Regions from separate parts of the Homo sapiens genome. Here all the other regions are reported to be linked to region 1. The links are microRNA targets in miRTarBase. Many come from high-throughput screens and were not tested one by one. Region 1 holds a microRNA gene; each other region holds the end of a gene's coding sequence.

Region 1 (5,151 bases):
CTCCAAGAAACACATTTAAAAACCACTGGCACACATGGATGGATTTTTGGAGAGAGTTCTTTTTTTATTTAGGCAGAAAAGCATGATTAAGGGAGAGGGGAAAAAAATCACTTGCAATCTTAACACCCACTACCCACTGGATATCCATACACTTACACGGATACACACACACTTCTCCTCGTGCAAAAAAAAAAAGAATCACACTACATATTACCCTGTGCCTATCTTCTTCATGGGACAACAAATCAGGGCTCTCTCTCCACTCCTCCATGACCCACCTCTATGGCATACTGTCTAATAAATGCACAGCATGAGTACTGTCTGGACTCATCACAATTGGGTGTTATATTGTCTTCAATAACTTTATTGTTGTAACCAAACATGTTCTGTGTTAAGTCAAACAATAGAGAAAAATACAACCAAAAAGAAAAACACATCTCAAATCCCACCACGTCAGAGATAACCATTGTTAGCAAATTGATGTACATCTTTCAACACACGTATTCCTACATACATTTATTATTTTACATAAACTGAATCATAGACACCAAGTTATTTTGCAACATGCTTTTTCCACTTACATAAACCAAGTTTTGGTAAAGCAAATACAACCTCAAAAATCTTTGAGAAATGTACTATCTAATGGAATCTTAACACAAATTCTCTATGAAATGAAGCATTCTTTTATACAGTGAATTTCTGCCTACTCCTCACAGATACACTAGGTTAATTTTTTAATGTGTGTGTGTATCTGTGAATTCCATATTTCATTTATTAGGTTTGCTTTAGGAAGAGTGCCCCTGAAATAAAAATGAGCCTTTTGTACTAAATCGGAGTTCTGAGCCAAAGTCAGTGTCCACAGCACAGAGGAGCTGAAACCCAGAGCATTTGGAGCTTCTAGTATATATTCTGGATTTTCTCCATCAGTCTAGGACTGAAGACACCGATCTCTGGTGTCGGTTGAGATTTCACCAAGGTTCTGGTTCTGGAATGAGTCACTGGCTAAGGGTCTGATAAGCAAAGGGCGGAAGTGGGCAGAGTGTGAGAAGGGTGGGGGAGGTCCTTGATCTGATCAGTACAACCCAGAGAACACACCCATGTCCCACACGCTTGCGAGGGGGCCTTCATAATAACCAAGCACCCCTTTCCATCTGTAGAACATGGTTACGTGTTTTTCAATTTGCCATCCTGTTGTTAATTTGTCCCCGTTTTCCAGATGAGGCTTGGTGAGATTCACTGAGATCATGCATACAAAGAAAGCCCTGAGCACAGTGCTTGGCACATAGTGGGCACTCAGTAAACCTCGGTGTCACTGAGAAGACAGAATGAGAATGAGCATGCTGTGGAGTCTTTCACCTGCCTCTCCTCTGGGACAGGTTACTCTTTCATTCTGTAGACTGTAATGACATGGAAATTCCAAGATACCAAGAGACAATGATGAATCAAAGATGAGTTCCCAAAAGACAAATCACATCCCTTATTCCCCATCAAATCTAAAGCCTAATAAAGTCCATATAGCACTCATGAGGCCTCTAACCTTCTGCCTAAAAGTGATCATCATCACAGCAAACCTGAGCCTCAGAAAGGACCTAGCTTACTTGGTGACAGAGGAGGGCAACAGAAGGACTTGGCCCATGGCACCCAGCTGACCATGTCAGCAAATAGAGAGGCCTTCAAAGCCTTTGCATTCCTGTTCCCTGGAGAAACTGAGGATTGCAGTAAAGTGTAATTACAACCTCTTTTTGCCTTGTTTGAAATACAAAGGGACAATGTAGCCCTAATATATTTATAGAAGGAAGTAGAGATCAAATAAAGGAAGAGGGGGACCAAAAGAAGGGCATATCCATGTTTCTCATCTTCTTTCACTGCAGATCTTAAAAAGGAACCAGAAGCCTCAGCAGTCCCTGCTAAAGAATCATTGTCACATTCTATTAGTTCCCTCTGATCCCGTGAAGAGGGGGGAAAAATCATTGCATGGCAATGCCATGTGTCTCAAGCTTCATTAAAGTGATTTCTCCCAAGAGTCTCGTATAACAGCATGTAAAGCACTTACAACAGTACCTGAATCATCGTAAGTAATCAATAAATGTAAACGAGTAGCAGCAGCAGCAAGAGAGACTTGCTGAGATCATTCATTTAGCTACTTGGAACCCTGCTTAGCATAGAATTCAAGTCTTTTCACAATCAAATGAGTGTTTCTCACAGGAACTCACACTCCTTATACCTTCAGAGCCTGAGACTCTGCCTTCTGTCTCCAGTCTTCCAAGCTCTTCAGCAGACTGAAAAAGTTCTTCAGGATCTACTCTCTCCAGGTCCTCAAGCCCACGATGACAGAGATATCCCAGCTGAAGAACTGAATTTCAGAGGTCTGACACTGACACAACCCATGGAATTCAGTTCTCAAAGCTGAGGATACACATCGGCTTTTCAGAGATGGTGCAAAGACCCCTCCTTGCAGTCCAGGCCTGTCCCAGCCCTGTAAAATACAAGAGTGAAAAGCCTGGTAAATCCAATGCAGCTGCTTCCTAGTACCAGGTCTAGTCCTGGCACTCATGAGTTATAAACATCTGGAGGAGACCAGGCCAGCAGTCTGGAAGGCTGATGTGGGTGGATCTCTTGAGCCCAGGAGTTCAGGACTAGCCTGGGCAACATGGAGAATTTGTCTCTACTAAAAATAAAAAATGAGCCATGCATGATGGCCTGTGGTGGGAGGATCGCTTGAGCCTGGGAATTGGAGGTTGCAGTGAGCTATGATTGCACCACTGCACTCCAGTCTGGGCCACAGAGAGAGACCCTGTCAAAACAAAAACTAATCTGTAGGGGATGTGTATGGTAGACACACACATCATTAAGCATCATTAAACATGGTAGCTGGCCTTTCCTGCCTCATGACCCTTCCATATGCCATCCCTCTGGCCTGGAAAACTCGTTCCTCTCTTTAACATCAACTTATCCTGATGTTCTTGCTTTCAATGTCACTTCCTCAGAGAGGCCATCTATGGCAGAGATTGCTGATTGTTTGCCCAATATATATTCTCTCCTCCTTCTATACTAATAGAACCCTTAAGTGGTATCTGAACACATGGACATCTGACTTTGTTTCCTCACCTGGTGTGACAAAGTGCTGGATATGAGCAGGAGTGGAGAGTTTTTTACTGTTTCCCTCCCTCTTCTCAGGCTTGGACTGTAGACATGGTAGAGAGCCACTGTGGACCATGCAAATGAGTGCAGCCCCCCAGGGAACAGCAGAGCAGCATGCCAGAAGAGCCCCAAAAGTGTGAGGCTTCCTTATACACCCTAGACTGCTTACACCTGCACTGATAGATCAGCAAGAATGGAACATTTACCTTATTTAAGCCACTGTTACTTGGGGATCTCTGTAAGAGCACTTGAATGTTTACCTACCACTCCCTCACCATCAGCCTCCAGCTAGTCTCTTTCATAATATGGGATTCTTTCCTTCACCGTAATTTGTAATTGTTAGATAATTTTGTATAATTATTTGATTAAAATTATCTCTCCAACAAGACTGTTTTCCATAAGCATAGAGACCATGCTAGTGTTTTTTAAATATGTATATAGGCGAGATGTGGTGACTCACACCTGTAATCTCGGAACTTTGGGAGGCTGAGGCAGGCAGATCACCTGAGGTCAGGAGTTCAAGTTTCACTTGGCTAACATGGTGAAACCCCGTCTCTAACAAAAATACAAAAATTCGCCAGGCATGGTGGCGCACACCTGTAGTCCCAGCTACTTGGGAGGCTGAGGCAGAAGAATCACTTGAACCCAGGAGGCAGAGGTTGCAGTGAGCTAAGATTGCACAACTGCACTCCAGGCTGGGTGACAAAGCGAGACTCTGTCTCTAAAAAATAATAATAAAATAAAATAAGTATATAATAGCCTTATTGAGCTATAGCTATATAGCTCACACACCAGAAAATTTACCTATTTAAAGTAAAAAATGCATTGGTTTTTAGTATTTTGCAGAGTTGTACAACCATCATAATCAATTCCAGAACATTTTCATCATCCCCAAAATAGATCCCATAACCATTAACAGTCAATCTCCATTCCCCTCCCTCACCCCTGGGGAATCACTGATCTACGTTCTGTCTATATATATGCTGGACATCTTATATAAATGAAATCATATAATCAGCGGCCTTTTGTGACTGGCTTCTTTCACTTAGCTTTCAGGATATATCCATGTTTTAATGCGTATCAGTACATCCTTCCTATGGATGAATAATATTCCATCGTTAGGATCTACCACATTTCATTTATCCATTCATCAGCTGATGGGCATTTGGGTTGTTGCTACCTTTTGCCTATTTGATGCTTCTATGAATGAATACCCATGTACAAGTTTTGTATGGACATATGTTTGCATTTCTCATGGATGTGTGAACCCAAAAGTATCTGAGACAGACCTGAATCCATTTAGGAAGTTTATTTTGCCAAGGTTAAGAACATGCCTGTCACACAGCCTCAGAAGGTCCTGACAACATTGTGCCCAAGGTGGTCGGGGCACAGCTTGGTTTTATACATTATAGGGAAACATGAGACATCAATCAGTATATGTAAGATGTACATTGGTTCAGTCTGGAGAGCTGGGACAACTAGAAGCAGGGGTGGGGGCTTCCAGATCATAGGTAGATACAAGACAAACTGTTGCATTTTTTTGTCTCTGGTTAGCCTTTTACTGAATACACAATTTACATGTGAGAGGAGGGTAGAGGAATAGTCACTTATTCCTTAGTCTGGCTTAGTGAAATAATAGGGCAGAAGAAGCAATCAGATATGCATTGGTCTCACATGAGCAAAAGAATGACTGAATTCTGTCTGTCCTTTGTCCACAAGGAATTTCCTAGTGGGCAAATTGTGAGGGAGGTATGTAGCTTTTTTATCTTTGTAGCTAGCTTACGTAGGAATAAAATGGGAGGCAGGTTTGCCTCACACAGTTCCCAGTTTGACTTCCCTTTGGCTTAGTGATTTTGGGAGTTCTGAGATCTATTTTCCTTTCACAGACGTATACCTAAGTGTGGAATTTCTGTGTCATATGTTAACTCTATGGCTATCAGTTGATGAATGGCCAGACTGTTTTCCAAAGCGGCCACACTATTTTACAATTCCACCAGCAGTGTATGAGGG
Region 2 (5,151 bases), not on the chromosome of region 1:
CTCTGCCTCCACACCCACACCCTCACCCCCACTCCGTGGCCCTACCTCCTGCCCACCTCCCCGTGCAGCAGCAGCAGCCACAGCAGAAGACCCCTCTGCCAGCCCCTCCTCCCCCACCGGCTGCCCCTGCCCAGACACTGGTGCCAGCTCCAGCCCATCTGGTGGCGACGGCTGGGGGTGGCTCCACGGTCATCGCCCACACAGCCACCACTCACGCTTCAGTCATCCAGACTGTGAACCACGTTCTGCAGGGGCCAGGCGGCAAGCACATCGCCCACATCGCCCCCTCGGCCCCCAGCCCTGCGGTGCAACTGGCGCCTGCCACACCCCCCATTGGGCACATCACTGTGCACCCTGCCACCCTCAACCATGTGGCCCACCTGGGCTCCCAGCTGCCCTTGTACCCGCAGCCCGTGGCAGTGAGCCACATCGCCCACACCCTCTCGCACCAGCAAGTCAACGGCACGGCCGGCCTGGGGCCCCCGGCTACTGTCATGGCAAAGCCGGCCGTGGGGGCTCAGGTGGTGCACCACCCCCAGCTGGTGGGCCAGACCGTGCTCAACCCTGTGACCATGGTCACCATGCCCTCCTTCCCAGTCAGCACACTCAAGCTGGCTTGAGGACGAGGCCACTCAGAGGCCCCCAGTGGGGACAGGGAGGGGGACCTGTCCCCCACTCTCTCACCCACCAGCTCCACACATTCCAGCCAGGCCCAGGCCAGCCCCCCCACCCACCCCCAGGCCTCCTAGGGGAAGGGGGTGCAAAGACTCTGAGCCAAGGGAGGGAAGGGCCACCCTGCTGCACTAGGACTTGGTAAGATGACTCTGAGAAAATGCGAGACTCTGATGGAATGTGCCACCTGTCCGGCCCAGTGCCAGCTCCAGTGCCGCTCCTGCTTCCCCTCCCTACCCTCGGAAATCAGTGCGATGTGGACGTCACGCTCCCTGACTTCTCCCCCGCCCTGCCCCGCCTTCGTGTGCTGCTGCTGCTATTGCTGTCTGGTGAGGTGGCCCAGGCCCCCGGCTTTCCTCCGGAGCCTCATGTTCTCTTCCCAGGCCTTTGGAGGGGAAATGGGGAAAGCAGAACTGAAGCCACTTGGCCCAGAAAGCTGCGGATTGGGGTGATAAGGGGCCTTGCTCTGAGCACAGGTGACAGATCATAGGAAGTGGCTGGTCTGGAGTCCCACCCGGACAGGTGGGGCCTCAGCCTGGGGCTCTCTGACCCGGTTGCAGTCACTGTGATTCGTTACCGTAGATACTACTTAAAATGATTCTCTACCAACAATAAACCAAACCCAGCCACTGCCAAGCTTCCTGTGCCCTCACCCCAATCCCTGCCACTGGGCTCTGGACCTCAGGAGGGCAGGCTGAGGTGGGGAAGGAGGGACTTGGCTGTCCTTCCCCTTCCCCGTCCCCTGCAGCCTGGGTCTGGATGGGAGGAGAGCCACTGGGCCCCTGTCCCCAGTCCCCAGTCCCCAGCCCTGGGCTTGGCTCTTGGCTTCCAGAAGGCAGCAAAGAGGGGCGCTGTCCTGCGTTCAGCCCCTGATCTCTGACCTCTGCTGAGTGCTGGGCACTGCTCCAAGGGACAGGTGGGCCTGGCGGCCTGTGGGTTTGGGTGCCTCCTGCAGTTTGGGAGACATGGACCAGCATCTGGTCTTGTTTCCAGGAGCATAGAAGCCACATCGTTGAGACATCAGGAAGGTAAAAACCCAGCGGCTTAGCCAAGCCCTAAGCCTGTCCCCAGACCAACCCTGGGACCTATACAGAACAGAGGGCCAGAGCTAGGGCTGCTGCTTCTGCTCCAGCCCCTTTGCCTCTGTCCTCCCATCCCCTCAACACCCTGCTTCTCCCGGGGACGCTTTTGAGTGGGCCCTGCCCGGGGAGCTGCAGAGCAGCAGCACCTTTCTCTGAGAAGAGGTCCTTGGTTGGGTCAAGGACAGGGCTGAGCGTGGAAGGGGGAGGAGTCAGGGGCTCTGTGTTAGGATGCGGCTTTCTCTGCCTCTGGGCAGCCTGCTTTGGCCTTTCCTTGTATGTGGGTGTTTATTACAAGTGGCTTTGTGTCAGACACGCTCGGCTCCCCACCTGGACACACACTCACCAGTGGCCTTTCAGTGTAGCGGGAGGAAGCCGGTGTCCCTGGATGTGAAGCTCACACTGATGGGCTGGGGCAGGGGCCTGGGCCGGCGAGGGGGCCGGGGGGAGGGGACAGAGCTGAGGATTTCCTGGAGTGCCCTGCAGGCACAGAGGAGGTCAGCAAAGGTCTTGAATAGATTTTCTCTGGAAATAAAGAATCCTTAGATGCCTAAAAATTCCCTTCCTGTTCCCTCCTGGTCCTGGACACCTCCCAGGGGACTGTTCCTTATTTCTCTCTCCTGGTGTGGGTAAAGGGACAGTTACAAACCAGGTCACCATCCTCAGAGGCTGAGCCCTGTACCCACCCCAGCACAGCCACCTCCGCCAGACCCCGTGGCTCTGGGAGAGCCAGCTTTGCTATTCCCATTGTGACAGCGATGGCAGGCCTGACCCACGGGGCAGTTAGAGCAGCCTCGTGGAGCTCGCCCCTCCCCTCAGCCTGCCCACCTCTCCCTGCATCCTGAGGCCAGTGGCCCCCGGGCCTGCACAGATACCTCATCATCCACCCGCTGCCCCTCCCCGTCCCTGTCCCCCAGCATCGGGGGCCTGCAAATCTAGTGCCGAATGACTATGTCCAGATTGGTGACGATGGGTGTTGCTGTTTTTCTTGTCGTTTGTGAACGCTGTGATGCTGTGTGCCCAAGTGGGCAGTCACCACCCAGCCCTTCCTTGGGCGTCTCCCCCAGAGTGCTGTCGGGACCACATCTGTCCTCACCCTGTGGGACCGCCTGGCCCTCCCTCCCTAGCCCTTCCAGCCTGGGACACACACACACACACACACACACACACACGCACGCACACGCACACATCTTACCTCTCATGCGTGTTTTACCTTTTGATGTTCAGAGTGGCTCACTGGCTGGGAGTCCTTACCTCGGGGAGAGGGGGAGGTTGGTTCCTTGGGGGGCCAAAGAAGGCAGGGAATGCCTGGAGGGTAACTGGGGGGCCACCATGACCCCTTCTCTCTCCAGAAACAGCTGCTTCTCCCCCCATCCCAGGGTCCCACCCCCAACCCCCAGAGGTGGCCCTTGTTTACAGTGAGGACTCGGCCACTGTGTCTCTGTTTCCTGAAATATAAACTGTAGCGACCCCAGACTGTAGAGATTTTTATGTGTTTGGATACATCTGCTGTGTGGAAAAAAAAAAAAACTACAAAAACCCTAATTTTGTACATACTGTATTTTTACTATTGAACTGTATTCTAGTGGCTGTTCATGCTCCAAGACTTTAGTTACCGAGACATGAATACTATCCATGTAATAAGCACTTGCCTGGAATAAAATATAAAACTGAAATAAACCTGCACTGAAACCTGAGATGGAGCTGCCAGCCTGCAGCATCTGGGTCATTTTATTGCAAAAGGAGGCTGAGGCCTGTAGGGAAGCATGTGGCAGGAGCGGTGAGATCACCTGTCTCGACCCTGTCTGCCCAGCATAGTCCTCAAGCGGCTCTGACCCGGTGCCTCCGCCGCTCTGAAAATGGCAGTTCTGGTCGGTCTGAAACTTTTGCAAAGCTTCGTATTTCCTCAGACCATTTTACAAGCATTATCTTGTTTCATCTTTCAACAGCCAAGTGAAGTAAATAAGCCAGACTTAGCCCCATTTTGGCAGATAAGGAAACAGGATTGAGGTGGCCCAGTGACTTGTTGAGGCCACACGGCTAGCTGGAGACTTCGTTGGAGCTGCAGTCAGACCTCTGAACTGGGTACAGAGTTCTTACCCAGCATCTGCCACCCTTGTGGCACCTGGGGCCAGTCCTAGACTCGGATCCAATAAAAAAGGTACAGGGGAGTTGCCCCAGGGATTGGGCACAGAGGGTGAGAGCTTCCTGAGGGGCTGCTCTGGGGGTGCAGTTACAACAGGTCAGCCGGGGAGTCCATAAAGCTGTCCTCTAAGGGAAAGGAACAAGGGGAAGAAGAGGCTGGAGGTCAGGGGCAAAGAGCCGTGTTCTCAGCTGGGCTGGAAGCCCCTTGTCCCTGTGGCTGTGTCTTCTCTCCCTGGGCAGGCTGTCATGGGAGGAGGTGGTGTGGGAAGTGAGGTCAGGGAGCCACTAGCTAGGCCTTGCTGGAGACCAGGCTGGGCAAGGGGGCCCAGCTTCTCATTTCCACCCTGACAGTACCTGACTGACTCCCAGTCCCCACAGGGGAGACTGACTCTGCGTCTCTTCCTGAGGTGGGGTGGGTAGGGGTTATCCTTGAGGAAGGGAGTGCTGTCTTGGGTCCTGTTTTCTGAAAGAGAAGAGTTGACTTCAAAAAGTTCAGGCCGGGCACGGTGGCACACGCCTGTAATCCCAGCACTTCGGGAGGCTTAGGTGGGCAGATCACCTGAGGTCTGGAGTTCGAGACCAGCCTGGCCAACATGGCAAAAACCCTTCTCTACTAAAAATACAAAAATGAGCCGGGCATGGTGGTGCATGCCTATGATCCCAGCTACTCAGGAGGCTGAGGCAGGAGAATCACTTGAACCCGGGGGGTGGAGGCTGCAGTGAGCCGAGATTGCGCCACTGCACTCCAGCCTGGGAGACAGAGCGAGACTCTGTCTCAAAAAAAATTTTTTTAATTAAAATGAAAGTTCGGAATCCAGCCCTCCCTACTGAGCCTGCCCTTTTTACTTGTGAGACGCGGGCTCCCTCTGCTGGTAGCTCCTGGAAGAGCTGGGTCACTTCCATTAGCTCACTAAGCGACGCTTTAGGGAAGGGATAGGGTGAGGGTTAACCCTTCCTGGGTGCATGCTCAGTGCCAGGCCCTGTGCCCACTGGGAACACAGATGAAGACCCTCCCCAGGCAGTGATAACTTGGCTGTCATCTGAGGGCTGTCACTAAATCTTTAGGCAGAAGCTGTACTCAAAGCTCCCCCTCACCCACAGTTCTCACTCACCCATGGCTCAGCTGGAGCTTATAAGAAAGGGGCCTGTGGTCAGGATAAAGTATGAATCCAGGTGCTTCCATTTACCAGCTCCTGCTCTGTAAGAGGAAGACCTGACTTTCCAGATTGCAAAGGTTCCTTGAGATGGTGTTTGG
Region 3 (5,151 bases), not on the chromosome of region 1:
CTCTTTCCCCTGTATGGAGGGTGTCTCTGTTGACACTATGGTGCCTGGGGTTGGGGAAGAGGTAATAAAAATAATGTAACACTGTCCTTCGTGCCCTCTTCAATGCATCCTTTTTTTTTTTTTTTTTTTGAGATGGAGTCTCGCTCTGTTGCCCAGGCTGAAGTGCAGTGGCACAATCTAAGCTCACTGCAACCTCAGCCTCCCAGGTTCAAGCGATCCTCCTACCTCAGCCCCCCTAGTAGGCGGGATTACAGGCACGCACCACCATGCCCGGCTAATTTTTGTATTTTTAGTAGAGACGGGGTTTTGCCATGTTGGCCAGGCTGGTCTCAAATTCCTGACCTCAGGTGACCCACCCACCTTGGCCTGCCAAAGTGCTGGGATTATAGGCGTGAGCCACTGCGCCCGGCCGCATCCTTTATTTCTACACTATACCCAGGTGCTGTGATCTCTTACTTGGTTTCTTTAGCTCTTGTGAAGGTAATTTTGTGCATGGAAAGCTATTCAAACTGATGTTTCTGCAGGGAGTCAAGTGCTAGAAAGTTCTATTCTGCCATCTTGCTGAAACCACTCCCGCTGATTTCCCTCTCTGAAGTTGTGACTCTTCACCTAATCAGCTTAAGTCCCATGGTTCATGTATTTCACACCAGTCAATCCAGGCTAAATCCAACTCTGCTGAATGTGGCTGGAACAAAACATACAACCCTGACAATTGATGTTATGTTAAACTCATGACCACTAACCTCAAGTGGGCCTTTAGTGTATCGTACATTTCCTTAATTTTTTCACTCTTCCCTATCCCCCAAACGTCTCACACCACCTCTACCATCCTCACTCTCAGCTAATAACTATGTTTTCAGTTTAACAGTGGAAATAAAAGCAATCAGACAAGAACACTCACAAGCTCTAGCATCTTCTCTGCCCACGCTCTGCCTTCCTCCTGGTTGGTGCTCCAGCGTCTGACCTCTTCACTAGTACCCTGGATCCCAGTGTCTTCACCTGCTCAGGCTCTGCTCTAGTCCATTCTCCTCCTCCTCTTCTCGTACAGCGTCAATTTTTCTACTTATCGTTCCCATGAGTATATAAATTTATCCTAGAATTTCTAATATTTTAAAACACCAAAATCCTCAAAAGCCCCCATCTCTTCAGTTACCCATCCGTTTCTCTGTGTTGGGAGACAATTCTCCATGGGTTTCTCACGTTTCTCACTATCTTACAAGTACATATGGTGATGGCTTTTGTTACAGGCTGTTTTCAGGATGAATAGCCTTAGATAGGTAATCCGTTCTCCAGAGCAACAGTTTGTTTAGCATCCAGTATAATATGTCTTCCTTCTAGACAAAGGTTTGATAGATTTACTTCTAGACCACTGTTTAAGATTCAGGCTCCCTAAACTTGGACCTCCCCTCCTGTAACTCCACCCAGCAAATGTGTATTCGAGGTCAGTACAGTATGTCTTCTGCCAGTATCCATGAAACTGGTAGCTTAACTTGTTACCTTGCAAGTAGGACAAAATCTCAGACTTTTCAGTCCTTAACACTTGGCCCCTTATTCACAGCTCCTGTTTCCAAGTTTATCTTGAATCCTCCTAGATTTACCCTGACCACTCCTTTATAACTGTTTTTTTCAAAATGACCTCACTGATGGTTAATCTCAGCATATATCCAACTTCATACAAATTATTAGTATTTGATATAGTGGCCACTCTTCTACTTCAAAATAAGTGTTTTCAGCTGGCTTCAGATACCACCCTCTACTGGTTTTCACCCTAACCCTGGTGGTTCCTTCTCAGTTTCATTTGCCAGTTCCTGCCCAGCAAACACTGGGGTGAGTGCTCGGGGCTCAGTCCTTGACATTCTTTATACTTTTTTTTCCTAGGTAATCTCACCTAGCTTTATGGCTTAAAATATTATCCCTGTGACAACTCCCAAATTTTTATTTCCTCTGAAATTGGGCTTCAGAGTCAGTCATCTTACCTCTAAACGCATAAGAGGCATGAGACAAACAGTTGCCACTTGGAATGACCATAGGGGAAGAAGGGTCCTTCTGGGAAAGCCTCATTACAGTCGGACCAGCAAGGCTGAAACTGAGATGGGAGATTTGCTGATTGTGCTGTTTCCCCTCCTGGTCCATCCTCCATCTTTCTACCCTGCTTTATCCCAGGAGGACGGCATCACCCGGGCTTCTGATTAGGTTCAGTTGATGGAGGCATCTTCAGGAGACAGCAATAAAGAGCTGAGGCTTTTCCCCCTCTGCTCCCTTTCCTGACAGTTCTGTGTTTCTCACAGTAGCTGCATCTTTGTAGAGCTTCAACATCCACTTAAGAGACACTCTTCCTTTTTATTTTTCTATCTCCTACAGGAAAGAGACCTTCCAACATTTTGGCTCTCACTGGGCTCTGAAACACCATTTCTTCCTTTGGTCCCTAGGGAGACAACAGCTTCTTGGCACTGCTGGTCTCTGGATTCCTTACCATCCGTTGTTTGTTCCCTTAATCCTTCTCTCATTCTCCAAGTCATCCTTTCATAAGGCGCTAATTCAGTTTACTGCTAAAGCCCTCACTGATAAAGCTGGTGAGGTCCACAGGTTAAAAATGGAAGGAATTCTATTCACCAGGCCCATAAAATCATATACAAAGACACACATATATAAGGGTTTATCTTTATTTTATAAAAACTGCTACACACACACATACACTCTCTCTCTCCCCTCTTGCTTTCCTCATTTGACCTAGAGAAGTTTGGAGTTTGTTCCCACACATTCTTTTCAAGGAAATACCATTCAGCCATGGTATGTTTTTACCACAATTTATTCATCCATTCCCTTACTGATGGTCTTTTTTTTGTTTGTTTTTTTGGTCCTTACCAAAAAATACAATATACATTAGTAAACATATAATCTTAAGTGCTGGCGCTTTTTATTCCTTAGGGATAGATTCCCAGGAGATTCCTAGGTTGTAAGAGTATATTAATGTTAAAACAGACTCACAATGTTGTCCAAGGAGGCTGTTACAATTTACATTTCTAAAAGCAGCTATGAAAATAACGTTTTCCCCTCCTTTGTGAGTAAGTAAGATGACAACTTAGACAAAAGCTTATTGGGCTATGGATGTTCTGGATAAATTTGTTCAGAAAGTCACTCAATATATAGTGTGACAGCACATCAATGATATCCAAAAATATTTTTTAAAAGCCAGTTTTTGGTTGCCATTTATAATTTCCAATACATGATTTGTGATTGATAGGGAAAGGCTGAACTTAAGAATTTGAAATCAAGTCTATAAAAGCAAATCTTTGAGTTACACAACAATTCTTGTTAATATCTGGAGAGACCACTGAAAAATCTGATTTTTATAAAAGTGTAAACATGTAAAGGAAAAGTAATAACTTATAACTCATGTTCCAAAGGGAAATGTTTTAGGTTGGCAACAGCAAAACTCAAGGAAGTAGAAATGCCTCCTTTAAACAACAAAATAGTGTAAAAATTTACTTCTAAAGGGGGTTATGCACGTGAAAAATTTAAAAAGCAATGAAACAGTTGACAGTTATTTAAAATAATTTTTCCTCTAAAGTCTCTGAAATGTAACATTTGTGAACTACAGAAGCATCCTACCATTTTTGCTAGACAATTCATGAAATATTAAGGGAAACAAGGAAAGACAAAAACAGGTGGTTTCTGTCTGTGTTACACAATATTTTGGTAACAGACATGCATTTGTATGCAAATATCCCACGGGAAAATAAGAGCATGACGAATGGGGATATTGTCTTTACACGGCAAACTCTTATTCTGTGGTGCATACTGAGTAGTACAGCTCATGTCTGCCTCCTTCACGTTATAGATCGGTTATTTCACATTTGCATATTTGTGTAAATAGTGCTTCTAGAAAATCTTCAGCAAACCAGAAGCAGGGAAAACTTCAACACTGTCTTCTGTTTCCTAAGAGGCAGCTCAAGAACAATGTTCATACCAACTGATATATGCCAGCAAGCAGTAGGGAAAGACGTAGGTTCCATGCTACTTTAAATGTTACACATTTCATTTGGAATGCATACTGGATTGCAGAGATACTGAAAAACACATGTGATGTTTAGTATGGAAAATCTTGTTATGTCCTAATTATCACAGAGGACAAGAATTTCAAATTCCCAGTGATTATGCTAAATTCACATGTGCAGATCTAAAGCATACCACTTGTGTTTTGTGGCATATCCACATAAAACCACTAAATTCATAGGATACTGTTTGTATATTTCTTATGCTGCTGTCTAGAATACTCAATTCATTCAAGATTTTAAAAAGCTCATTGTAGTACAACTGGGTATGGCTATTTACAACTGGATATATTCTGATATGTATTCTTTAGCTGGGTATCACATGTAACTTCCAGTATAATGTTCTCATGGGATCCTATTTTTAATACATTTTTGAGTTGAGAGATTGCATCTCAGTATGAATTCCCATGTTCCCTCAATACTGTCATGAGGTTTTTCACCCGCTTGAAGAGTTCTGGCAGGAGTTTTCCACAGTAAGACCTGGCTGGAGTTTCAGGGTTTCTCCCCGATGTGAACTCTCTGATGGACACTGAGTCGGGACTTCCTGCTAAAGGCCTTCCCACATTCGGAACACTCATATGGTTTCTCTCCTGTGTGGATTCGCAAGTGTAATCTAAGAGTTGACCTCTGGCTGAAAGTTTTGCCGCACTCAGTACATTCATAGGGTTTCTCTCCTGTATGAGTTCTCATGTGTATGATGAGCTGTGAGTTCTGGATAAAGGATTTTCCACATTCACTGCACTCATAGCGTTTCTCCCCCGTGTGAATCTTCTGATGTATGATAAGGTTTGACTTCTTAAAGAAGGTTTTTGCACATTCGTTACACTCATAGGGTCGCTCTCCTGTATGAATTCTCTGGTGTGTGGTGAGTTCAAACTTTTGGGCAAATGTCTTTCCACATTCACTGCACTCATAGGGCTTCTTCTCCATATGTGCTCTCTGGTGTACAATGAGGTTTGACTGGTGGGTGAAAGCTTTTCCACATTCCGGACACTCGAAAGGTTTCTCCCCAGTGTGAATTCTCTGATGTTTGATGAGGTTGGCCTTATGGGAGAAGGTTTTCTTACATACATTGCATTCATATGGCTTTTCTCCA
Region 4 (5,151 bases), not on the chromosome of region 1:
GACTCTGTTTCTTACAGTTTCAGCAAGAAAAACATCTGCCAGCCAGTGACCCGGAAAACCTTCATGAAAAACAACTTTGAACACATCCAGCACATTATCATTGATGACGCTCAGAATTTCCGTACTGAAGATGGGGACTGGTATGGGAAAGCAAAGTTCATCACTCAGACAGCAAGGGATGGCCCAGGAGTTCTCTGGATCTTTCTGGACTACTTTCAGACCTATCACTTGAGTTGCAGTGGCCTCCCCCCTCCCTCAGACCAGTATCCAAGAGAAGAGATCAACAGAGTGGTCCGCAATGCAGGTCCAATAGCTAATTACCTACAACAAGTAATGCAGGAAGCCCGACAAAATCCTCCACCTAACCTCCCCCCTGGGTCCCTGGTGATGCTCTATGAACCTAAATGGGCTCAAGGTGTCCCAGGCAACTTAGAGATTATTGAAGACTTGAACTTGGAGGAGATACTGATCTATGTAGCGAATAAATGCCGTTTTCTCTTGCGGAATGGTTATTCTCCGAAGGATATTGCTGTGCTTTTCACCAAAGCAAGTGAAGTGGAAAAATATAAAGACAGGCTTCTAACAGCAATGAGGAAGAGAAAACTGTCTCAGCTCCATGAGGAGTCTGATCTGTTACTACAGATCGGTGATGCGTCGGATGTTCTAACCGATCACATTGTGTTGGACAGTGTCTGTCGATTTTCAGGCCTGGAAAGAAATATCGTGTTTGGAATCAATCCAGGAGTAGCCCCACCGGCTGGGGCCTACAATCTTCTGCTCTGTTTGGCTTCTAGGGCAAAAAGACATCTGTATATTCTGAAGGCTTCTGTGTGACAGGAAACCCAAGCCTAAGAAACAATTAAGTGGTTCTCATCTCTAATTAACTGTGAAACCATTTAATCCAAACATGTAAGCACACACTCACTTATTAAGTCACATACTTTTCTAGGTGCTGGGGATTGAGAACGAATCGATGTAAGATTCCTCCTTTAGGGCAGAGACAGACCACTGACAAATACACAGATAGACAAGGAATTTCCCATGGTAAAAAGGGATATCAGTAATTAGAGGACCGTGAGACTCAGAGATGTGTGTGTGTGTGTGTGTGTGTGTGTGTGTGTGTGCGCGCGCGCACGTGCACATGTGTGTAGGTAGATGGAGGGGGTGATTATTTTGGGTGGTCAGGGAAGTGCTCAGTGAGGGAAGAACTTGTCATGAGAATCTCTGAGCGTGCCAGGCAGACTCGGATATTTTTATAAATTTTTAACATGGCCACTTGCAGAAGAGCTTGAATGGGACGTGCAGCGAGAATGTGAAGGATGGAGCAGGTAGCTCATCTGGCCTTGTAGGTGCCGGGAACGGGCAAGACATGTTTTGAAATGTAAGATCACAGACTGTTTTTTGCAAGACCACATTATATTACTTTATTATTTTCTGCTTTTTCTTTTAACGACATTAGTGTTTTTGATCACTATATTTTAAAATGCTTTTTGTGAGCCTTTTGGTTATGTGGAATCTGTTCCTTAGCTCTGATTTTTTATTCTTATGGAGCGTCTTAGGTTACTACATGAAGGTAAGACTGCCACAGTCCCCCAGGGAGGCACACTGTGTTTTACTGATTGATTTGAAGATGATAGAGAGCCTAGGGGGATGAGTCTATTGGACTCAAAGGTTACATTTTGTTTTTCCATTTAATTTAATAATCAACAAAACGACAAAGTCAGTTTAATATCTTTCTTCTGCTGAGTCTTCAGGATGTTAGCTAGTCTTTCAAAAGCCATTGCTACAAAAGTGCAAATTTCTCATTTCCTGTGGGTCTCTAGAAACTCTCTCAATATTTAAAGCCAAACAAATCCATCTTTTCTGAGAGACAGAAACTAAAAAATTCAGAGTTAATTCACTATTAAAAACAGCAAGGCCCTGCTATTTCCCAAGAATAAAGAAATTTAAAATTCTCATTGTAAGAAGTATGAACTTGAAGCTAGAATTGGTTTATTTCTGGCAGCTACTTACAATATTAAGAACTTTACTTTTTAAATTTGAGACAATTTCACAGGAAAGCAAGAAATTAGTCTATTGTGAAATGTTTTTACAACTAACTTGGAATATACTGCAAATCACTAGTAAGTAGAGACACATTTAAGATAAAATGATTAATAAAACAATTGGTAATTCTGAATAAGGATCTGAATAAATCCAGATCACAGACTGTTCCTTTACCAATATGTAAAAGAATGTGCAAAATTAGTAAAAATATACCCAAAAATTTACCAGCAACAGAGAAGCAAAGAATGGAGTTCAACCTTACACTATAAACATCTAATAGATATGTATGAAAATTTAAAAACTAGAAAAGGTTGGGCATGGTGGCTCATGCTTGTGATCCCAGGACTTTAGGAGGCCAAGGTGGGAGGATTGTTTGAGCCCAGGAGTTCAAGACCAGCTTGAGCAATATAGTGAGACCCTGTCTCTACAAAAACAAACAAACAAACAAACAAATAAATAAATAAATAAAATTAGCTGGGAATGGTGATGCACACCTGGAGTCCTAGCTACTCAGAAGGCTGAGGCAGGACGATCACTTGACCTCAGAAGTCTGAGGTTACAGTGAGCTATGATCATACCAGTGCACTCCAGTCTGGGTGACAGAACAAGACCCTGTCTCCAAAAATTAAATAAATAAAACAAAAAAAAAGAATTTAAAAGTTTTATATAAAGGCATAGCTACTATCTCATCTGCCCAGTGTAGTCATGAATAGATGTCACATAAAGAAAAGAAAACCAGAATTCTTGTTAATATGGCCAGTTTGAAGGGTGGTGGCGGAGGTATTGAGCAGGCAGCTCAGGGAAATGCCAGGGAGACCCTTGAGCACAGAAACTCCTGATTGTCCCCAGGGACTCTCCGTGGACACAGGAGGGATTTTCCAGGATTTCACATGAATTCAATGAAGGGGGCTGTGTCTTATTCCTGGATGCTTTGCCTCCTTCATGGAATTCAGTGGATTTAATGGAAGTTCCTAGGCAACAATAAAGAGTAGAAACCAGGTTAACAGCGAGGGCCTCATCTCACACCAGATCATATCAGGCTACACAAAAGTAGATGGAAGACACCACCCAGGCCTCCAGCTATACACTGGAGAAGAAGCCAAACTAGTCTACTTCATCTAAGAAAGTTGTCAAAGAGAGCCCTTCTATACTATCTTAAGGTAAAAAGAAAGACTCTACCCAGCTGCCCTGATTAAGCATTAGAAAGATAAGTGTTCTGATCATTAGGCGAAAGACAATGGGGAAAAATGTAGAAAAGAAATATGACATGAGCCAGATGAAGAACCCATCCTGAAAGGATATATAACTCAGGGGACAAAAGACAACTCACCATAAGTTGGGCGCAGTGGATCACGCCTGTAATCTCAGCATTTTGGTAGGCCAAGGCAGGTGGATCACCTGAGGTCAGGAGTTCAAGTCCAGCCTGGCCAACGTGGTGAAATCCTGTCTCTACTAAAAATACAAAAATTAGCTGGGTGTGGTGGTGCATGCCTGTAATACCAGCTACTCAGAAGGCTGAGGCAAGAGAATTGCTTGAATCAAGGAGGCAGAGGTTACAGTGAGCCAAGATCAGGCCATTGTACTTCAGCCTGGGCGACAAAGTGAGACCCTGTCTCAAAAAACAAACAAAGCCTCCCCATAGATGTCTCCTGCCATAGAAGAATTTAAGAAGTTCATAAATTCAATAAAACAAGAGTTGAAGGCCTGTCCCACTGTACCCAATTTCTCCCTCTCTGAACTGCAGCCTAGAAACTCTCTACAGGCAGTAAGCTGGGGCAGTCACAGAGGTGACCTCATCTGTTTCCCACATCCTGCATTAGGACAGTGATCAGGGATCAGTATCCTTCATTGACTGATTTCCAATATCTCGAGACCTGTTGTTTCATATATTTTGCCTTATTTTGCAATTGTTTCATATATTTTGTCTTATTTTGCAATTGTTTCAGGAGGGAGGATAAATATGGTCCCTGTTCCTCTATCTTGACCAGAAGCATCTAAGAAGGCAGTGAAGCAACATGTGTACAGTTCTTAGGGAAACAAATTTTGACCTAAAAATATTAAACCTAGTCAAAATATTATTCTAGTACAAAGGCAGCACATGGGTATTTTTGAACATAAAAGAGTTCTAGAAATACAGGACCCATGAATCATTCTTGAAGAAAAGTTACTCAGTAAGGAAATCTAGCTAAGCAAGCAACATGTACAAATAAAAGATTATTATAATTGGACCAAAGTTAAGTTTAAATCCATTCACATGTATATAATTAAGATATATAGGAATTATAATTACAGAAAAGAATGTTACAAACCTTCACAAAGTAAAAATATTTTTATATCAGATAGATTCTTCTGTTTCAATCCATAAAACCAGGGTTTGGATCATTTTAAAAAAACAAACAAAAATAATTTATTGGAATCATTAGGGAGGACCTGATAGAATAAAATGACAAGCTGACCAAATAGGCCTTAGAAGGGAGAGGTGCCTGGGCAGTTACAAGGACCTAGGTAGCAGGGGTGACTTGGCCACAGTCATTTTCTTTACTTGATTTAAGGAGGTTAAATTACAGTGAGAGAGTTGCACTTATTTAGTTTGCATACCGTACTCAACTCTTAGCTAGCATAGGGCAGGTTCCTTAGTTGAAAAATTTCCACAAAACATGATGTAAAGTGGAAAGATCAGTTCCCCCAAAGAATATCAGTTACCAAAGTAGGATGAAAGGATGTTGGGTAGATCAAAACAACAAATGTCCATTACAGCAATTAACAAAAGTTAGGGAGTGGGGAAGTCTGAGTGCTAATATGGATTTCAAAACAACTTTAAAAATGGCTTCAAACATTTTATGCTTTTTGTAATTTAGTCATTTTAATATTAGATAAATCTTCCTGTAACTGAAAGTTCTTGAGTTAAAGAAAAATATTCGGTAGTTCAGCTCTTCCTTCAATTTTATTAGTTGCTTTTTCTTTTGTTCAAGTGAAATAAACATAAAAATAATTTTAAAATATTATGTATCATATCCTTCGATTTAACATAATTCTATCTAGCTGTTCTTATATTTTCTCTGATATATTTTTAAAAGCTTTCTGGAATATTATTAACCTTGAATA

Evidence for each region. Region 1 holds the annotated microRNA hsa-miR-146a-3p (CCUCUGAAAUUCAGUUCUUCAG, at 2,346-2,367, opposite strand). A microRNA usually pairs through its seed, bases 2 to 8, with sites in the 3' UTR of a target mRNA and lowers its output. Matches are read on the target gene's strand: a 7mer-m8 pairs with bases 2 to 8, a 7mer-A1 pairs with bases 2 to 7 and ends in A, and an 8mer does both.
Region 2: the mRNA of MNT is a reported target of hsa-miR-146a-3p. Seed matches in the 3' UTR shown: 7mer-m8 at 2,974-2,980.
Region 3: the mRNA of ZFP1 is a reported target of hsa-miR-146a-3p. Seed matches in the 3' UTR shown: 8mer at 3,572-3,579.
Region 4: the mRNA of SLFN5 is a reported target of hsa-miR-146a-3p. Seed matches in the 3' UTR shown: 7mer-A1 at 1,082-1,088 and 7mer-m8 at 1,886-1,892.

The regions. Positions count from the first base shown.
Region 1 is chr5:160,482,624-160,487,774 of GRCh38, reverse strand. It overlaps MIR146A (microRNA 146a), which reads right to left and starts at 2,423; the gene lies at 2,325-2,423. MIR3142HG (MIR3142 host gene) reads right to left here. Exons shown (of 2, transcript NR_132748.1): 2 at 349-2,476.
Region 2 is chr17:2,382,370-2,387,520 of GRCh38, reverse strand. It overlaps MNT (MAX network transcriptional repressor), which reads left to right. Exons shown (of 6, transcript NM_020310.3): 6 at 1-3,448. The coding sequence ends at 620. Among named protein-coding and RNA genes, the nearest start is that of MNT, 16 kb to the left of the region's middle. RefSeq lists enhancers at 714-1,538, 4,491-4,700.
Region 3 is chr16:75,169,731-75,174,881 of GRCh38, reverse strand. It overlaps ZFP1 (ZFP1 zinc finger protein), which reads right to left. Exons shown (of 4, transcript NM_153688.4): 4 at 2,648-5,151. The coding sequence ends at 4,548. Among named protein-coding and RNA genes, the nearest start is that of ZFP1, 24 kb to the right of the region's middle.
Region 4 is chr17:35,265,055-35,270,205 of GRCh38, forward strand. SLFN5 (schlafen family member 5) reads left to right here. Exons shown (of 5, transcript NM_144975.4): 5 at 18-5,151. The coding sequence ends at 834. Among named protein-coding and RNA genes, the nearest start is that of SLFN5, 25 kb to the left of the region's middle.